Homo sapiens: one gene and its partners. The protein of the gene in region 1 interacts with the protein of each later gene in a pairwise test. Each region holds a gene or a part of one and is shown in the gene's direction. Other genes may lie near its edges.

What was found.
Region 2: the proteins of PPP1R16A (region 1) and ANTKMT interact in binary tests that used the Homo sapiens proteins (3 or more experiments, as listed by UniProt).
Region 3: the proteins of PPP1R16A (region 1) and SUV39H1 interact in binary tests that used the Homo sapiens proteins (3 or more experiments, as listed by UniProt).

What each region holds. Positions count from the first base shown.
Region 1 is NC_000008.11:144,480,961-144,487,985, forward strand, and holds part of PPP1R16A (protein phosphatase 1 regulatory subunit 16A), read left to right. Parts: intron 1-7,025. UniProt on the Homo sapiens protein: Inhibits protein phosphatase 1 activity toward phosphorylase, myosin light chain and myosin substrates.
Region 2 is NC_000016.10:717,249-723,115, forward strand, and holds ANTKMT (adenine nucleotide translocase lysine N-methyltransferase), read left to right. Parts: upstream 1-3,897; 5' UTR 3,898-4,026; coding exon 4,027-4,188; intron 4,189-4,349; coding exon 4,350-4,454; intron 4,455-4,552; coding exon 4,553-4,693; intron 4,694-4,835; coding exon 4,836-4,886; intron 4,887-5,060; coding exon 5,061-5,309; 3' UTR 5,310-5,342; downstream 5,343-5,867. Other genes in the region: METRN (meteorin precursor), read left to right, coding at 1-139; CCDC78 (coiled-coil domain-containing protein 78), read right to left, coding at 5,430-5,541, 5,674-5,867.
Region 3 is NC_000023.11:48,699,734-48,706,758, forward strand, and holds part of SUV39H1 (histone-lysine N-methyltransferase SUV39H1), read left to right. Parts: intron 1-357; coding exon 358-1,020; intron 1,021-6,531; coding exon 6,532-6,678; intron 6,679-6,764; coding exon 6,765-6,894; intron 6,895-7,025. UniProt on the Homo sapiens protein: Histone methyltransferase that specifically trimethylates 'Lys-9' of histone H3 using monomethylated H3 'Lys-9' as substrate. Also weakly methylates histone H1 (in vitro).

The sequences.
Region 1 (7,025 bases):
TCACTGCAAGCTCCGCCTCCTGGGTTCACACCATTCTCCTGCCTCAGCCTCCCAAGTAGCTGGGACTACAGGCGCCCACCACCACGCCCGGCTAATTTTTTGTATTTTTTTAGTAGAGTCGGGGTTTCACCATGTTAGCCAGGATGGTCTCGATCTCCTGACCTCGTGATCCGCCCGCCTCGGCCTCCCAAAGTGCTGGGATTACAGGCGTGACCACCGCGCCCGGCCTGTTTGATGGGTTTTGTGAACAACGTCATAATCCAAATATAAAACATTTCCGTTGCCCCCAAAAGTTCTCTCGTGCTCCTCTGTGGTAAGCCCTTCCTCACACCCAGCCCAGGCAATAGTGATCGCTTTCTATTACTGTAGGTTTGGCGTCCCTTTTTAAGAATTTCACATTGGCTGGGCGTGGGGGCTCACGCCTGTAATCCCAGCACTTTGGGAGGCTGAGGCGGGTGGATCATCTGAGGTTGGGAGTTCGAGACCAGCCTGACCACCATGGAGAAACCCTGTCTCTACTAAAAATACAAAAAGTTAGCCAGGCATGGTGGCGCATGCCTGTAATTCCAGCTACTCGGGAGGCTGAGGTAGGAGAATCCCTTGAACGTGGGAGGCGGAGGTTGCGGTGAGCCGAGATCGCACCATTGCACTCTAGCCTGGGCAAAAAGAGCGAAACTCCATCTCAAAAAATAAAATAATTTCACATCAATGGAATCATATGGAATGAATACTTTTGTGTCTGATTTATTTTGCCAGATGACAATGTTTTAGAGATTCAAGTGGTTTTGTGTATCCGTAGTTGATTCCCTTTTTCTTTTTTCTTTTTTGTTTTTTTGAGACAGAGTCTTGCTCTGTTGCCCAGGCGGGAGTGCAGTGGCACGATCTTGGCTCACCGCATCCTCCGCCTGCCAGGTTCAAGCAATTCTCCTGCCTCAGCCTTCTGAGTAGCTGGGACTACAGGCGCCTGCCACCATGCCCTGCTAATTTTTTGTATTTTTAGTAGAGACAGGGTTTCACCATGCTGGCCAGGCTGGTCTCGAACTCCTGACCTCGTATCCGCCCGCCTTGGCCTCCCAAAGTGCTGGGATTACCAGTGTGAGCCACTGTGCCCGGCTGCCGCCGCCGCCGCCGCCGCCTTTTTTTTTGAGATGGAGTCTTGCCAAGTGCAGTGGTGTCATCTCGGCTCATTGCAGCCTTGGCCTCCCGGGTTCAAGCGATTCTTCTGCCTCAGCCTCCCAAGTAGCTGGGACTGTAGGCATGTACCACCACACCCAGCTAATTTTTGTATTTTTAGTAGAGACGGGGTTTCTCCATGTTGGCCAGACTACCTGAAGTGATCTGCCTGCCTCAGCCTCCCAAAGTGCTGGGATTATAGGCATGAGCCACCGCTCCTGGCCAGTTTATAGTTTTCTTATTTTTTATTTTATTTTTATTTACTTATTTTTGAGATGGAGTCTTGCTCTGTTGCTCAGGCTGGAGTGCAGTGGCACAATCTTGGCTCACTGCAACCTCCACCTCCTGGGTTTAAGCAGTTCTCCCTGCCTCAACCTCCCGGGTTTAAGCAGTTCTCCCTGCCTCAACCTCCCGGGTTTAAGCATTTCTCCCTGCCTCAACCTCCCGGGTTTAAGCAGTTCTCCCTGCCTCAACCTCCCGAGTAGCTGGGACTACAGGCACATGCCAGCATGCCCAGCTAACTTTTTTTTTTTTTTTTTTTGGGACAGTCTCACTCTATCGCCAGGCTAGAGTGCAGTGATCTAGGCTCACTGCAACCTCTGCCTCCTGGGTTCAAGCGATTCTCCTGCCTCAGCCTCCCGAGTAGCTGGGACTACAGGCGCCCGCCACCACGTCCAGCTGATTTTTGTAATTTTAGTAGAGACGGGTTTCACCATGTTGGCCAGGATGGTCTTGAGCTCCTGACCTCATGGTCCACCCGCCTCAGCCTCCCAAAGTGCTGGGATTACAGGCGTGAGCCACCGCGCCCGGCTTATTTTTTTGTATTTTTAGTAGAGACGGGTTTTTGCCATTTTGGCCAGGCTGGTCTTGAACTCCTGACCTCAGGTGATCCGCCCCCCTCAACTCCCAAAGTGCTGGAATTACAGGTGTGAGCCACCGCGCCCGGCCCAACTTTCATTTCTTTTGCGTATGTACCCAGAAGTAGGATATGCCTTCTTTTTTATGTTGTGTGGCTGACAGAGTTACGTTCTGTTCTGTAACGATGTTCACATGTCAGTCTTTCTATCTACAGAACCAGGCAGTGTGTGTAAAGTAGGTTTCCTCATCTGTGGGTCCAGTGTCCCAATTCCTGCCTCCTACAAATGATGTTCTTGGCTGGCTTCAAGTTCAAAGGCTTTCCTCCTGTTTCATGCATCATCAGTCTCCTTCATCACGTGAATTTTTTGAACTTTGTCATCCTATGTGTTGTGTCGTTCTGTTTTCTTTATTTCTTTTTATTTATTCATTTATTTTTGAGACGAAGTCTTGCTCTGTCGCCCAGGCTGGAGTGCAGTGGCACCATCTTGGCTCACTGCAACCTCTGCCTCCTGGATTCAAGTGATTCTCGTGCCTCAGCTTCCTGAGTAGCTGAGACTACAGGTGCATGCCGCCACGACCGGCTTTTGTATTTTTAGTAGAAATGGGGTTTTACCCTGTTGGTCAGGCTGGTCTCGAACTCTTGACCTCAGGTGATCCACCCGCCTTGGCCTCCCAAAGTGCTGGGATTACAGGCATGAGCCACTGCGCCCGGTCTCTTTTTTTTTTTGAGACAGAGTCTTGCTCTGTTGCCCAGGCTGGAGAGCAGTGGTGTGATTAGAGATCACTGCAGCCTCAAACTCCTGGGTTCAAGCAATCCTCCTGCTTTGGCCTCCCATATGTTGGGATTATAGGCGTGAGCCACCATGCCCAGCCCTTCCCTGTTTTCTTTTTCCTTGGCCACCTTCCCCTGCTCATCTCTCTGCTCTGACAGCTCCTACCATCTTTCCTTCCAACTTCTAGGAATGTGCTGGCTGACTGTGAGCTCTCTTTCTTGGAAATGCCTTTCCAGCTCCTGTCCCAGGCTCACAGGCATCTCAGTGGCTTACTGTGTCACCTGCGCCCTAGGTTGGTTGTCTAGACCCCACACCTCTGTTGTCCTAAGGCTGGGGACCCTCACGGTCCCAGTGCTGCCTCCTTCCACACTCCCAGGCCCTGTGCCACTGGCACGTCTGTCCGCAGGTCCCCTTCCCACAGCCCCACCTAGACCGAAAGGTCTGTGTCTCTGTGAGGAAGTGAATACCGAGTCAGAGCAAATCCTGGGTTACAGCGCCGACCCCTCTGAAGCTCACTTTTGTGATTTTGGTTTCCTCACCATTGTACTTGACAGACCTTAGTTGCCACATCTACTCCGTGGGGGTTATGGCCCATTAGAGCTATGAGGCTGAATGAGGCAGTTCATAGGGAAGGCTGCTTGTGGCCCTGGCTTCTAGAAAGGTGTGATTTGCAGGGGCTGCTAGGAGCCCTCCCTGCCCTCTCTTCCCTTTCTTTTGGTCTAGGGCTGGCTTTTATCTTCAGTTCTCGTTGAGTCTCTTTTCAAATGCAGATGCCTCAGGCTGCCAGCTTCTTTCATTTAGGCATCTGGGCCTTTGACACCTTGCTGTGAGTTAGTTTATTCGATTTATTTTGAAGCCAGGTGGCAAGGGGAAAGGAAATTGAAGAGGGAGATGCAACGCTTCCCCTGGTTTCTGGGGAGAGGCTTCCCCAATTCTCCAGCCCCTGACAGACATTGCGTGAGAGCTCATGGTTAGCGGGCCAGTCCCTGGTGTGGTCCACGCGTATCTCCTGTCCCGGGCTGGAAGCATGATGTGTGCAAATGTCCAAATCACGGGGTCTTCCCTCCCTCACAGGGCTTTAGCCAGGCAGCTGTTACTGAGGTAAATAATGATTTGTGTTTGTAGATAAAAAATAGTGGAATAGTTTCAATTTCATATGGTTCTGCTGCTGGGTGTTATGCAGGGGGAATCTGAGGAGCACTGAGATCACTGGGAAAGAGGCCGGGTGCGTGGCTCACGCCTGTCATCCCAGCACTTCGGGAGGCCGAGGCAGAATGAAGAATCTCATGCCAGGGGCCAGAAAGGAGGCTGAGACCAGAGTGTGAGTAGGAGTCAGCCCCCTCAGAGGTGGGACCAGAGAGGAGGCTCCTTAGGAAGCCATAGTGAGGAGGACATGTGGGACAGGCTCAAGGATTGACAAAAGAACCAGTAAAAAAGAATAGAATCTCAAAAAAAAAAAAAAAAAAAAAAAAAAAAGGCCAGGCGCAGTGGCTCATGCCTGTAATTCTAGCACTTTGGGAGGCCAAGGTGGGTGGATCACTTGAGGTCAGGAGTTCAAGAATAGCCTGGCCGACATGGTGAAACCGTGTCTCTACTGAAAATACAAAAAATTAGCCAGGCGTGGTGGCACACACCTGTAATCCCAGCTACCCGGGAGGCTGAGGCAGGAGAATGGCACGAACCCAGGAGGTAGAGCTTGCAGTGAGCTGAGATTGCGCCACTGCACTGCAGCCCGGGCAACAGAGCAACACTCCATCTCGGGAAAAAAAAAAACAATAGATAAAGAAAAATAAATAAAAAAAGAAAAGAGATGGCTCAGAGATCCCTTGTAGACTTCCCGGGTACCCATGTGGTAACGTTGCACCTGTCAATGGAGTACAGCAGTTCAAGGGGATGTTGACACCAATGTGCTCCATTGACCTTATTCAGATTTCACAGCTTTCCATGTGTCTACCTGTGTGTGTGTGGTTTAGTTCTGCGCATCTGTCACTGTAGGGTTTGTGTGAGCCCATGGCCAAGATGCAGCACAGCCACCATAGGGACCTCTTGAGCTGCCCTCTTGCAGCCACAGCCACCTCCCTTTCCCAGCCTGAACCCCTGAGAGCCACTGGTATGTTCTCCATCTGTATGGTTTCACCATTACGAGAATGCTCCATAAATGGAGTGCTGCAGGGTGTGGGCGTTGAGGTCGGCGTGATGTCCTGAGGTCCATCCAGTTGTGTGCACTACTAGTGTGTTCCTTTGACTGGAGGAAACGTCTATGGTATGGATGGACGGACCATCATGTTTCACCTGTTACAAGACATTTGGTTTTTTCCCCCAGTTTTTTGCTATTATGAATAAAGTTGCCATGAACATTTATGTAGTTTTTTGTGTGACTTAATTTTTTTTATTTTTTGAGACAGAGCCTCACACTGTTGCCAGGTTGGAGTGCAGTGGTGTGATCTCGCGCCACCACACCTGGCTAATTTTTGTATTTGTAGTACAGATGGGGTTTTGCCATGTTAGCCAGGCTGGTCTTGAACTCCTGACCTCATGTGATCCCGCCTGCCCCAGCCTCCGAAAGTGCTGGGATTACAGGCGTGAGCCACCACGCCTGACTTAAATTTTCATTTCTCTGGGATAAAGGCCCGTGAGCGCAGCTGCTGGGTGGTTTGGGAGTTGCATGTTGAGCTGTTTTGGTTTAAGAAACTTCCACACTGCTCTCCAGAGTGGTGGCTGTTTTATTTCACAGGTTTTCATCAGCTCCTGTGAGATTCCTTTGTCCTCACATCCTTGCCGTTTGGATTCGTGGGCAGCGGTATCTCGCTGTGGCTCTAATTTGCATTTTACGAATGGCGGGTGATGTTGAGCATCTTGTCACGGACGCATTTGCCATCTGTGTATCCTCTTCAGTGAGGTGTGTCTTTGCATCCTCTGCCCATTTTCTAATTGGATCGTTTCATTTTTACTGCTGATTTTTTGAGACTCGTGTGTTCTTGACAGCAGTCCTTTGTTCTGTGTGTGGTCTGTGGATATTTACTCACTCAGTAGCTGTCTTTTCATCCTCCTCTCAGGGTTTTTAGCAAGGCAAAAGTTTTTAATCTTGTCAAGGTCCAGTTTTTCCGTTTTCCGTTTTATAGACTGTGCTTTTGCTTTTGGTGTCACCACTCTGTAGAAGTGCTATTATTTTACCTTTACGTTAGATTTGCATTTCACCTGGGGTGGGGGTCAAGATTCTTTTCTTTTCTTCTGTTTTTTTGTTTTTTGATTATTTTCTGTCACCCAGTCTGGAGTGCAGTGGTGTGATCTCGGCTCACTGCAACCTCCACCTCCCAGATTCAAGCGATTCTCCTACCTCAGCCTTCAGAGTAGCTGGGACTACAGGTGTGTGGCACCACAACCGGCTAATTTTTTGTATTTCTAGTAGAGACGGGGTTTCACCCTGTTGGTCTCGAACTCCTGATCTCAAGCAATCCTTCCCCCTCAGCCTCCCGAAGTGCTGGGATTACAGGCGTAAGTCACTGCGCCTGGCCCCAGCACCATTTATTGAAGGCTTTTCCACTCCCAGCAGTGTCATAAATTGCATGTCTACACATGTGTAGGTTTATTTCTGTTTTGTTTTGGGGACAAAACAAAACAGTCAGAGACAGAGTCTTTCTCTGTCCCCCAGGCTGGAGTGCAGTGTTGATTTCGGCTCACTGCAACCTCTGCCTCCCAGGCTCAAGTGATCTTCCCACCTCAGCCTCCCAAGTAGCTGGAACTGCAGGGGTGCACCACCATGCCTGGCTAATTTTTTAAATTTTGTAGAGATGAGAGTCTCCCTGTTTTGCCTAGGCTGGCCTTGAATCCCTGGGCTCAAGTGATCCTCCTGCCTCGGCCTCCCAAATTGCTGGGATTGCAGGTGTGAGCTGCCTCATCTGGCAATTTTCTGGACTCAACCGTATTCCATTGGTTTATTTCTCTATGCCTAAGCCAGTAACTTAGGTCTTACTTACCAAACTGTATATAATAAGTCTTGACATCTAATAGTGTAAGTACTTCAAATTTGTTCTCTTTCAGGCTTATCCCTAGTGTTCTTGGCCTTTTGTGTTTCCATATAAGTGGAGCATTAGCTTGTGAGTCTCACACTGTTGGGGTTTTGATTGGGACTACGTCAAATCTTGGATGAATTTGGGGAGAAATGACATCTTTTCAGTTCTGGGTTTTGCAACATATAACGAGATGTCTCCTCCTATATCT
Region 2 (5,867 bases), on another chromosome or scaffold:
AGGCACCTTCCTCTTCATGGGCTGGAGCCGCTTTGGGGAGGCCCGGCTGGGCTGTGCCCCACGATTCCAGGAGTTCCGCCGTGCCTACGAGGCTGCCCGTGCTGCCCACCTCCACCCCTGCGAGGTGGCGCTGCACTGAGGGGCTGGGTGCTGGGGAGGGGCTGGTAGGAGGGAGGGTGGGCCCACTGCTTTGGAGGTGATGGGACTATCAATAAGAACTCTGTTCACGCAAGCTGCTGTGGACCTGGTCTCCTGTGTCCAGCCCAGCCTTGGGCCTGCCTCGCAGCTGTGAGGATGGCTCCAATTCCTGCCTCCTGGCGGGAGACTGAGGCTCAGGGGAATGGTATCTTGTTCAAGACCATTTGGCAACTGAGAGGGAGAGCAGATGTCAGGAGGAGCTACACCCACATTCCGGGGAGGGGCCGCTGCTGGGTGGGGGGCACGTGGGGACCTGCACTCATGCAAGCTTCTGCTCTGCTGCACCCACCAGCCCCGTCCTTGCCCGCACCCTTGCCTGCTTCCCTGGCTGGCTCCCACTTGCCTCCCGTGCCAGGTGCTTCTGGGGCTCAGCAGGAGAGGAAAGGGGCAGAGGGGCATAGGGTCCCTCGGGTACGGTGGGGGCAGGCGGGCGCACAGCGCTCCGGCTCTGAGCCAGGCCTGTGAGGGAAGGGGCTGCAGGCTGGCAGGGTGCCGACTTCCCCCATGGCTGCTGTGAGCCCGCAGAGTCATCCTTGGCCCCGTCCCGCCCTTGGGGAAGAATGGGCCCCTCTGTCCTCAGGCCCCTTCGACGTGCTGAGCATCCAGACGTGGCGAGGAGCCCGAAGGGTGTGGGGTCCCCTCTGCAGGGTCCTGCTTGTTGCCTGTTTCCGGCGGGCGGGGTGCACAATGGGGTCTCTAAGGACCGTTTCCCGCCACTGGCCCCATTGTCACTGTCTCCGCCTTCCTCCTCGGCCTTTCAGCCGCATAAAGGGCCAGTGAGGTTTGGGACAGCCACAGCCCAAGGCTCCGAGGCTAAAAGCCCCTGGGTGGGGGTGTTCCAGGACACCTGGCCCTGTGTGAGCTGCCTCCTCTCACCCCAACCCCTCGGATCCTGGGAAAGAGACAGCCATGGCTCAAGGGCCAGGGACCCCTGGGCTGAGCCCCAGAAATGGCTTTCCATTCTCGCCTGGGCCGGGGTGGGGGTGGAGGCCAGAGGCCCTGCCCAGGCAGATGAAGCCCCCAGCTTTCAAGGGGGAAACTGAGGCTGTGTGAGGGACACAGCTGTGCAGGGCCCACAAACACGGTCCTTTCTCTAGGTTAGCGGATGCAGATGCCTGATGAGTGCCATGCCCTCTGTGGACACCTGGGGAGGGGGGTCACCTCCAGCGCCGCCCTGGGACTTCCACTGCACGTGCAAGAGACTTACCCTTTCACACAGATCACCTGCCTGCCGCAGGGCTGATGAGGATGGGTGAGGAGCGCAGCCACTGGGTGTCATGCACTGTGGGGGTTCTCCCACCTTCTGCCCCTCCTCAGGTTCCTTGCTGCTTCTCTCCTCTCCCAACTGTGGCACGCTGAGGGCTCAGGCACAGGACCGCTCCTCTGGGGCAGCCTCCAATAACCCTTGGACAACCTCCACTTTTTCATCTTCAGCCCTGACCACTCCCTGGGGCCCATAGCCTTACATCCATCTGCCCCCAGCCCAAACACTTCTGCAAACACTAGAAAAGGAGGTAGCCCGTGTGCCCTCCTGCACCGCCTCCTCCACTCCTGTCTTGGAGAGGCTTTCCCGTGGGCCGAGCAACCCCCTTACCTTTGGCACTTGCCCTGATTCTCTGGCCAGCTTCCTACAACCTCTCCTTTTCAGCCACACCCAAGTCCACCTGTTCACAAACACCCTGGGCTGGGCCCTGGCCGAACCCTGGCTTCTACCTACCTGTCTCAGGAAGTGCCTGAGCCTTGCACCTACAGACCCTCCCAGAGAAAGCCCTGGCTTTGCAACCAGCTGTCTTCTCATGAGACACAGGGCCACAGGAGCACCACGGTGCCCAAATGGGTCTTGGAGCATTAGACCAGGGGCTTCATGCCTGCCCTGGGGACAGGTGGCCAAAGTGGCATGGGAGATAGGGAGACAGTGTGGGTGAGCAGGTGGGCAGGAGCTACAGGAGCCTGGGGCCTGTGGATCACAGACACCGCCAGGCAAGTGCCAGTTCACACAGGTACAGGTGGCTGCAGAGTGCCCAAAGGCCAAGCAGCAGAGTGCCTGGTGTGGACGGGAGAGGAGTGGGGAGGTTGGGCGCAGTGGCTCACGCCTGTAATCCCAACACTTTGGGAGGCCCAGGCAAGCAGATCATGAGGTCAGGAGATGGAGACCATCCTGGCCAACATGGTGAAACCGTCTCTAATAAAACACAAAAAATTAGCCAGACATGGTGGCATGCATCTGTAATCCCAGCTACTCAAAAGGCTGAGGCAGAGGAATCACTTGAACCTGGAAGGCAGAGGTTGCAGTGAGCCAAGACTGCGCCACTGCACTCCAACCTGGGCGAAAGAGCGAGACTCAAGTCTCAAAAAAAAAAAAAAAAAAAAAAAAAAAAAAAAAAGAAGAGTGGAGAGTGCACGCTAGAGTCCAATTAGGTGCATTCATCCAGTAAGCCTCCTAGGTAACTGCTCTAGGTGCAGGGAATAATGCAGGCAGCAGGACAGGAATGGGCGCTGTCAGCTCCCCCTAGAGCTCAGTGTACATACACCCTTCCTTTCCTGGGAGGGCCGTTCCAGGCCCCCAGGAGACAGGACACGCTGAGCTGGGTGGGGCTGGGGCCAACGTGGGCAGGCCTGTGAGACTCTGCACTTGGGAGCTGGGGGCTGTGGTCTGCGGCATACCCATGTCTGGAAGCAGCCTCTGTCCCTGCAGGGGCTCTAGACCCCAGCCACGGATGGCTAAGGAGGAGCTAGGCCAGGGCACGCATAGACAACCCCCGACATTCACGGGTGTTCAGCCCTACCCTGGGTGTGGAGGTCGTGGCCCAGCTGCCTGACCCAGAGCTCGGCTCTTCCACTTGCGCTTCCCACCCCCAGCTTCACAAGGTCACCTCCAGGAACTCAGTCTTTTTGTGTGTTGTTTTCTGGAGAAGGAAGGTGATCTCCCCACTCCCGGGGCTGTCTGCCTTCCCTGTAGCTGGCAGGTGCCAGAGGCCCCCGCCTGTGACATCCGGCTTTCCTCCCACCACACTCGCCTGAGAGCCAGCATCTGTCTTCTTGGGCCTGCTCAAGCTCTCCTCCGTGTCAGCCCCTCCTCCATGCCCTTCTCCCTCAGACCCCACCCCCCATCCCTTCACCGCCCACTGGGGCTCATCGCTCAGGCTGTAGGAGGGAAATGGAAGGATGTCCTCCCGGGCTCTGGCTGGCGCTGGGTGTCCGAGTCAGCGGAGCGCCCCCAGCAGTCTCCCCGAGGCAGAGTCATGGGGGTGCTGGCGCCTGGACGCTGTCTCATCCCGGGGAGCCGCTTTCCCACCGGCTCCCTGGGCTCCAGCCGCCCCACGCGAGCCCCCGGCTGGTTCTGGGGCCAGGACCGCCCCTCTCCAAGGCAGACTTCCCTTCATTCCACGACAAAGACGCGCAGCCCCGTTTCCCTGGGGCTCTAGCCCGTGAGATCGCCGGGTGTATCCCGACTCCCGCCGGCACGTGCGCTCCCCCAGGGCAGGGCCTGCCTGTCCCCTTCCGCGGGTCGCCAGCAGCCAGCACAGGCCGCAAACGGCGGTCCGCAGAGCGGACCAACGGAGCCGACCCTCGCAGGCTTGGAGCCGGACGCGGCGGGGCAGAGCCCCCGAGGCTGCAGCTCGCCGGAACCCGCGGGAGGGCAGCCGGGCTGGGCGGAGCGCACAGCGCCACGGACCGACCGCGCAGGCTCTGCCGGCCACTTCCGGTGTCGCGCGGCGGCTCCCGGCAGGAGGCAGAGGGCACACCGCCAGCCCCAGGCCAGGCTGCGAGGGCCGCGGACCCGAGCCGGGAAGGACCTTGGGCGGACGAGCCGCGCGTCCCGCAGCCATGGAGCAGGACGACCCGGTCGAGGCGCTGACGGAGCTGCGCGAGCGGCGGCTGGGCGCGCTGGAGCTGCTGCAGGCGGCGGCCGGCTCGGGCTTGGCAGCCTACGCGGTGTGGGCGCTGCTGCTCCAGCCCGGCTTCCGGCGCGTGCCGCTGCGGCTGCAGGTGCGGGGCGGGGCCAGGCCGGGCAGGGGAGCTCGGCTGCCGCTCAGGGTCTCAAGGTCTGGGCGTGGCCGGGGTGAGCTCCGCCCCGCCGTGTGGTAGTTCGGGCCGGGCTGCGGGCGGGGCGGGAGCGGCCAGTGGACTCTCGCCGCCACCCGGTCCAGGTGCCCTACGTCGGCGCGAGCGCGCGGCAGGTGGAGCACGTGTTGTCGCTGCTGCGAGGACGCCCCGGAAAAACGGTGGATCTGGGCTCTGGCGACGGCAGGATCGTAAGTGCCTGCGTCTGGGTCTTCGCCGCCCCACACCGCCCACCTGCTGGCGGGCGCCCCTGCCCACATCCTGGTTCCCACACTCTCGGTGCCCACAGGTGCTGGCGGCCCACAGGTGCGGCCTCCGCCCGGCCGTGGGCTACGAGCTGAACCCCTGGCTGGTGGCGCTGGCGCGGCTGCACGCCTGGAGGGCCGGCTGTGCCGGCAGCGTCTGCTATCGCCGCAAGGATCTCTGGAAGGTAACCTGGGGATCCCTGGCCACCCGCTGACAGCCCAAGGTGCGGCTGACACCTGCGAGGGCTGGGGGCCGGGACTCGGAAGCTGCGATGACCCGGTGCCCACCAGGCCTCTCCCCGGCCGGGGCGACTTCTCTTCCGGCAGGTGAGCCTGAGGGACTGCCGCAACGTGTCTGTGTTCCTGGCCCCTAGCGTGGTAGGTGCGGGGTTGCCAGCCCCGCTGGGAAGCCCCAGCCACACCCCAGGGTGTTTGCTGCTCTGAGGCCTGGGCCTGCCTGGTGGGTGCTAGGCTTGGGGCTAGGGGGGTGAGCGCGGCTGTTTTCTACCGGCCCCGCCCCCGCCCCCTCTACTCTGCTGTTCTCTCCCTCAGCTCCCGCTGCTGGAGGACAAGCTGCGGACAGAGCTGCCTGCTGGGGCCCGCGTGGTGTCTGGGCGCTTCCCACTCCCCACCTGGCAGCCTGTGACCGCGGTTGGCGAGGGCCTGGACCGAGTATGGGCTTATGATGTTCCTGAGGGTGGGCAGGCTGGGGAGGCCGCCTCCTCGCGGATACCCATCCAGGCTGCCCCCGGACCTAGTTCTGCCCCCATCCCGGGGGGCCTTATTTCTCAGGCCAGCTGAGTATTAGACACGATAAAGACTCTGTGGGTTCTATCCTGACTCATGTTTTATGGGGGGCTGGGTGGGAGGGTTCTGTGCTGGCTGAGGAGCTCTGCTCTGCTCTGCTCCTTGGGAGACGGCCTAGTGGCTGCCGGTCCTTGGATGCTGGGGCTTGGCTGGAGGCACAGCCCCCACTTTCCAGGGGTCCCCTGCACCTGCCAGCTTCCTCAGCCTCAGGATTTCGTGCTTGTACCTGCTCAGAGGAACCATGCTTAAGTGACTTGCCCAGCTGTGGACAGGTCTGCTTTTAGCGCCTGAGGCAGCCATCATCCTTCATTCCAACCAGACCAGGGCCCTGGGGTCACACCCAGCTCCCTCTGCCCACCTGCCCAGGTGCTGGTCCACGTACTCCTGTAGCTCAGAAAGTTGCTCTTCAGCCATCGTGGCCCGGACCAGCAGCTGTGCCCGCTCCCGTTCCAGCTCTGCCTGGCATGGGGATGTAAGCCATGAGCTGGGGCATGGCGTGAGGATGGGCCTGGGCCAGCCCTTGCCTCCTACCTGGGTGCTGCGGGAGAAGTC
Region 3 (7,025 bases), on another chromosome or scaffold:
GAGGGTGGGTGTCGGAAGTGTGAACAAAAGAGAAGTCAAGGATGACTCCAGGAGTTCCGGTCTGAACAGCTAGAAGGGAGGGAGCTGATGATGGGGAAGACCAAGGAGAGGAGTGGGTTTGGGAGATTAATTAAAAGTTGGAACAGTTTGGACAGACAGTAAGGGGGAGAGGAGGATTTGAACCTAGTAATCCTCACTCTAGAGCCCATGCTTTTTAATCACCGCATGAAGTCATTCCAGAAAAGGGGTGGGGTGGGGTAGGTGTTATCCATCAGCTTTGGGATGGAAGCCCCATGAAGGCTGGCCCAAAGATCTCACTACTTACGGTACCCCCGTCCCCCTACCCACCCCCAACAGGAACAGGAATATTACCTGGTGAAATGGCGTGGATATCCAGACTCAGAGAGCACCTGGGAGCCACGGCAGAATCTCAAGTGTGTGCGTATCCTCAAGCAGTTCCACAAGGACTTAGAAAGGGAGCTGCTCCGGCGGCACCACCGGTCAAAGACCCCCCGGCACCTGGACCCAAGCTTGGCCAACTACCTGGTGCAGAAGGCCAAGCAGAGGCGGGCGCTCCGTCGCTGGGAGCAGGAGCTCAATGCCAAGCGCAGCCATCTGGGACGCATCACTGTAGAGAATGAGGTGGACCTGGACGGCCCTCCGCGGGCCTTCGTGTACATCAATGAGTACCGTGTTGGTGAGGGCATCACCCTCAACCAGGTGGCTGTGGGCTGCGAGTGCCAGGACTGTCTGTGGGCACCCACTGGAGGCTGCTGCCCGGGGGCGTCACTGCACAAGTTTGCCTACAATGACCAGGGCCAGGTGCGGCTTCGAGCCGGGCTGCCCATCTACGAGTGCAACTCCCGCTGCCGCTGCGGCTATGACTGCCCAAATCGTGTGGTACAGAAGGGTATCCGATATGACCTCTGCATCTTCCGCACGGATGATGGGCGTGGCTGGGGCGTCCGCACCCTGGAGAAGATTCGCAAGAACAGCTTCGTCATGGAGTACGTGGGAGAGGTAGGGAGATGGGACCCGGTGTGTGTGTGCAGCTCTTCCCACCCTGTGTTCACAGTGTGCACCCGGCTCTCCTCACTGTGTGTCTGAAACTCCCTGCTTTCCCTATGGGAAAGGCCTGGGAGACTGATCTGAGTGTCACAGGGACATTGGGCAGGGGCTAGTATTCCAAGCTGGTACACACCAGCATGGCCATGCTGGTGGTTACAGGAACACCAAAATACTTCTGCACTGGGTTGACTTTATCAGGGTACTTAGCAAAGAAGAAAAGTGGGAGCTGAGATCCAGGCAGCCTTAGCATTCCTTGTAACAGGCCATGTGGTCTGGCATAGGGCTGCATCAGCTGGAAAGGCACTTCCTCTTCTCATTTCACAAGGGCCCATCTTATCACCAAGCAGTATCTGCCTGAGGAGCATTGTTTTACCAGTCTGCACAGAAGGAACGCAGTCTGGAGTAGGATGAGACATGCCTTGGACAAAGGTTGGCTAACTCCTTTAGACTTTCAGGACACTGGGGAAGGCCGAGTGTATTAGGCAAGCCAGCCATTGTAAAAACAACCCCCTCATCTTAGTGACTTTGCACATTACAAGTTTGCTTGCTCATGGAACAGTCCATTGTGGGGGTTTGAGTGGGTATCCTTTCACACAGCAACTGGGACACCTAGGCTCTTTCCCTCCTGTGCCTTTGCTGTGCCTTGAAGCCTTGGAGTCACTACCAGATCCTCAGCATTGCCTGGCAGGCGGGCCAAGTGGGGGATAGAAGGGGCCCATCCTAGTGGGCCAGGCCTAGATGCAGCACCCATCACTTCTGCCCATGCTCCACTGGCTGGAACTGAGTCACTGGCCTTACCTCCATGCAAGAGAGGCAACAGGATGTGCTTTAGCCATGTGCCCAGCTGCACAAGGCTAAAGCACAGCCATAACTAGCAACTAGATAACTAGCAAGTATCTACAACAGAAAAATGTCGCATTCTAAGATGGGATGCAGTTAGCATTTGGGATGAGATGATTTTTCGTTATGTAGAACTGTCTCATGCATTGGGGGACATTTAGCATCCCTGGACCTTGACCATTTAAATCCATGAGTGTGCCCTGTCATAGTGACAACCCCAGATACCTCTATATATAGCCATAGGTCCCTTAGGGGTGTGATATAGTTGGAAAGTGACAGAAACTGGCCTGAGGAACACTCACATGAGGGTGTCCACACTGTAGCACTGATACTGATGACAAGGAGAGGCTCCTACTCTGAGAAACTGTACAGAGGGTCACATCTGACAGGGACAGAGACAATCTTGGGTAGAACAATCTACACCACAGAGGACCCTGACAGTCTGGGCAAGGAGACAGCCACACCCTGTCCAGATAACCCTGCTGGCCTGCTGGAGGAGATGTCTACATGCCACAGGACCTGGCCATCTGGAAGGAGGAGGTGGGGAGGTGTCCACACCCTGAGGGCTCCTGACAGTGGGCGGGGGAAGGAGTCCTGATAATCTGCAGGAAGTCCATGTCCCACAGTGACCCCAGTGACCTGGAGGAAGAGCTTGTGCTCTCCACACTCTAGAGGACCTGGTGGTCTGACTTAGGAAGTGTTCACACCCATGTTGTCATGACAGGAAAAAGAAGTGTCCTCACCCCAGAGGGATCCGGACAGCCTGGAGATCTAGTCTACACCCAAGGGCACCCTGACAGTATCGGGGGAAGTGTCCATGCCCTCAATGTCCTGACGCTCTGGAGGAAGTGTCCAGAGGTTGAAGGAACCCAAACTCTCTGGAGGAGATGTCCAGACCCCATAGGACCCAGACAGTCCACCGTCCTAGGGGCTGCACAGAGCAGGAAGTATCTCAGCCTCACTGTACTGGCATCTGGAGGAAACACTGTCTACCACACAGGGTCCTGACAGTCGAGGAGGAAGACTACACCCCAAGGGCAGCCTCAGACCCTCCTGGGCCTGAGACTTTTCTGGCTGCTCTTCCTTAGTGTCAGTGTCTTTAATCCTCCCAGGGATCCTCTCAGCCCTGTCCTCACCCTTCCTGCTCTCCACACATTCTTGCTGCACTATTTCCTGACCGCCCTCCAGCACCCTCAGACCCATGGGTCCTCCTGATGGTGCCACAGGCCTCCGGAAAGAGCCAAACTCATCTTCCCGCATTCCCCTCTGAAGAGACAGTATAGCAAATGGTTAGGAGGGTGGACTCTGGATCCTGACTGCCCGAGGCTGAATCCCAGCTCCACTACTCATCAGCAATCACTAACCTCTGTGCCTGCATTTACTATGTAAAATGGGAACAATAATAGCACTCACCTCACAGGCTTGTTACAAAAATTAAATGAGTTACTATGTATCAAGCACTTGGAAAAAGCACTTGAACAGTGTTCAGTACACAGTAAGTTTGATACAAATGTTATCAGCATAGTTCAAACTTCAGCAAATCCAAAATGTCTGGAAGACCAAGTTTTTTTGTAACCCATCTGGCTACAGGACCCAGCCTGACCGGATAGGGTCCTATTTGTAGTTTTTATTTATCCTACTTGGGGTAATAGTCATACATTTCGTTGCAGCAGTTCTAATTTACTTGATTCTGTAGTGCCGTCCCAGATGCTGCCAGGGTGTTACGGAATCAAGGGCCTATCTGCACACCATGCTATCTACTGTCCTTCTTCAGCTGGGACATGTACTGACAGTCTGTACCAAGAGCTCCCTCCACGGGAGCTGCCCTTCCCTCCTTTGCAGCCTCCCACATTGGGTCAGAACTTTCACGTTCCTGCAGAACATTCCCATCCTCACCCAAGAGACAATGCCAGCCTATTTTATCCATTCTAAAACATGCATTTTCTTCCTATTTTAACATCTCGGAAATGAAGATGTCTTAATTAAATCATGGTGTATCATTTATAATTAACAGCAGTTTTTCCTTTCTTGGTAAAGGGCACATAAAATTAAGGGTGTGCCTTACATTTATAACTGGTCCTCATAACCACTCCTAACATTGCTCACTCTCCTATCAGAAACAGGAACACCTTTCACGTCCATGATCTTGTATGGATCTTTACAACAGCCCCTGTCAGGTTGGGATTTTGTCACTGTCATTCCCATTCTGCAGATGAGAAAACTGAGGCCCAGAGAGGTAGAATAACTTGATTAAAATCACAAAAGTAGTACAATGGATAAAAAAATAAAGGCCCAAATAATATCTAAAACTGGTACCCTGCCAGGCTGTAGCTTTTTTTTTTTTTTTTTAGCTGAGGAAACAGGCACAGAGAGAACATTCAGGATCCCATATCCAGGAGGGGGCAGAGCAGCAGCTGACTCCAAGTCTTCTAGTTCCCATTCACGTCAGCACCCTCTCGGAACTGCCAGCTTACAGCCTGTCTTTTCCATTCATTCTGGAGAGCTGTTAGGGAGCAGAGACAGGCCCATCTGTTCCCAAGCTTTCAGGGTTGACCAATCATTAGAGAATGGGACTGAAAAGAAGATGAGAAGGAACCAAGAAGTGTTTGTGCCCTGGAGGGCCTGCAGTATGACTCACTCCTGGTGAGACTGGGAGAGCAGGTAGTGGCAGAATAGGCATGAAGATGGAGACTAGGAAGGATGTGGGCACTCCTCCTGGCTCAAGGAGGGCCTACGGTGAAAAAGATGGCTCATACCCCACCCACTAGGCCTGTGAGCCTGGGAGAGGCTGCCCTTTGATCCCAGGACTTGATCAGACAAGTGGCCAGCTTCTGAGGTAGGGGAGGAACGGGAAGCTTGGAAGGCTGCCTAGAGAGGTCCCATCTGTTTGAGCTGATGCCACAAGGAAGACTGTTCTCCAGGAGGTGAAGGGAGACTGATCTTGACATATTCCACCCTCATGTTGTGGCCCTTAGGAGAGAGTCCCCACTCTTCCACCAGGTGGTAAAGCCCTTTTATGATCTGCAACTCGTTTTAGAGAATCCGTCTCTTCTCCATTCCCCCTCAAGCCCTAAGCACTGTTTCCTGATCACAGTCTTACACTGTGGGTGTGTGAATCTGTCTCTCTGTGACCAGACTTTGACCCCTTGAGGGCAGGGACCAATCCTGGTTCCTGTGTATCCCCTACCCACCTGTGACCCCTGAGAGTGGACCGGGCCTGGTCCCTGTGTCTCCCTGATCAGACCGTGAGCCCTGCATGCTGGGACTGGGCACAAGGAAGGCCTCAATAAAAACCCTGGCAAGGGAGCCAGGTTCCTCAAGGAACAGAACTGGAGCACGGGGCAGTGGGTAGTGTGGCCCGAGGCAGGGTAAATCTTGGTTTCCTCAAGGCATTGTTAGTCAGCCTTTGGCATGGAACACAGCCTTGAGGGGACAGCCAGGGAGAACACCAGTGTGGCCATCCTAGCTAAGGAGATGGATTCCCAAGTCAGAAGGGCATGGTCACCGGCCCACATGAGGGTGAGCAAGGAAGGAAGCCCGAGAGGGGTCTCTGGAGAAGGGAGGGGAAGGAAGAAGTGTGGCGGGGGAGTACTGGAGCTACCTGGAGGGCCGCCACTTGGACAGAGGACAGGCTGCTAAGCCAGGAAGCAGAATCAAAGTAAACAGCAGTCCCCATGTGTCTCCTGTGTGCTGTGCACTGTTCTTGGCTGAGGTACAGTGGGACCCCTACCCAGGGAAGGGCCTGGTCAGCTACGCTTGGGGATTGGCAGGAGGCTGCCGTTGCTGGCCTCAGGGAAGAGGGGCCATGGGGCCGGAGATTTGTTGGCGTGGATTGGGAGGCAAGGACAGGCTGGGGCTAGGATGGCAGCAAAGCTTCCCATTTCCTAGGACAGGTAGGGAACCAGCTGGGGAGGAGGCACCCACTGCCGTCTGAAGCACCAGTTGGCACTGCGCAGCCCTGGGCCGAGGGAGAGCTTCTCTCACTGTGCTCTCCCTTCATCTTTCCTCCTCCTCTGCTGCTGTCTCTGAAGTGTGTGGCCTCAGCCTCTTTCTGGCTCTCTGAACCTGGGCCTCCCTCTGCCTCTGCCTCCACCTCTCTTGTCTTGAGGCCCTTGCCCCCTTTCCCCATGGCCTGGGTCTCTTCTTCCCCTCTCTCCACGCCCTCCCTGCTGGGTCCTGCATGGGCTCAGGCTCCCTTGCCTGGATCAGTAAGTATCTCTCCCTGTGGCACCCTGGGTCACTTTCTTTCTTGCCCTTGCTTTGGTCTCTCCTGATCACCTTCCTGCTCCGTCCCAAGGCACTGGAGGCTCCAGGGGTTCTTGGGCAGCTCTTGCTGGGTGGCGGCAGGAGGTGCTCGCGTGGCCCCAGTTGGGCCCTGCAGCCAGGCCAGCCTGCACTCACCGCCAGGGACTCCTCCTGCTAGCCAGAGGCCTGAGGCGGGCCAGGCAGTTGCCAGCTGAGGCCCAGCTCCTCAGGAAGGGCCGACAGACTCTCTGCGTCACTGCCCATGTGTGTCCACGGGCAGGGGTGCCTCCTGCTCCCTGTCCTTCAGAAGTCAGGAGCAGTGCCGGCTTTCCTGAGACTTCGCGGCCAATCTCCCCTTACCCATGGCCCTTTCCCTAGATCATTACCTCAGAGGAGGCAGAGCGGCGGGGCCAGATCTACGACCGTCAGGGCGCCACCTACCTCTTTGACCTGGACTACGTGGAGGACGTGTACACCGTGGATGCCGCCTACTATGGCAACATCTCCCACTTTGTCAACCACAGTGTGGGTACCCCCGGCAGGCGGGCAAGGGGTCGAGAGGGGCAGGCTGGAGCCCCTCCTCACTCTCCCAACTGTTCTTTCTCGCCCAGTGTGACCCCAACCTGCAGGTGTACAACGTCTTCATAGACAACCTTGACGAGCGGCTGCCCCGCATCGCTTTCTTTGCCACAAGAACCATCCGGGCAGGCGAGGAGCTCACCTTTGATTACAACATGCAAGGTGGGGGTGGCAAGGGACTGGGGGCAGGGGCGCACTGTGACTTGGGACACAAGGACCCCTCCCAAAGGCACACCAGTCACTCAGAGAACCAAGGAAAATTCTTTAGCGGGAGCTTTAAGATGCTCTTCCTG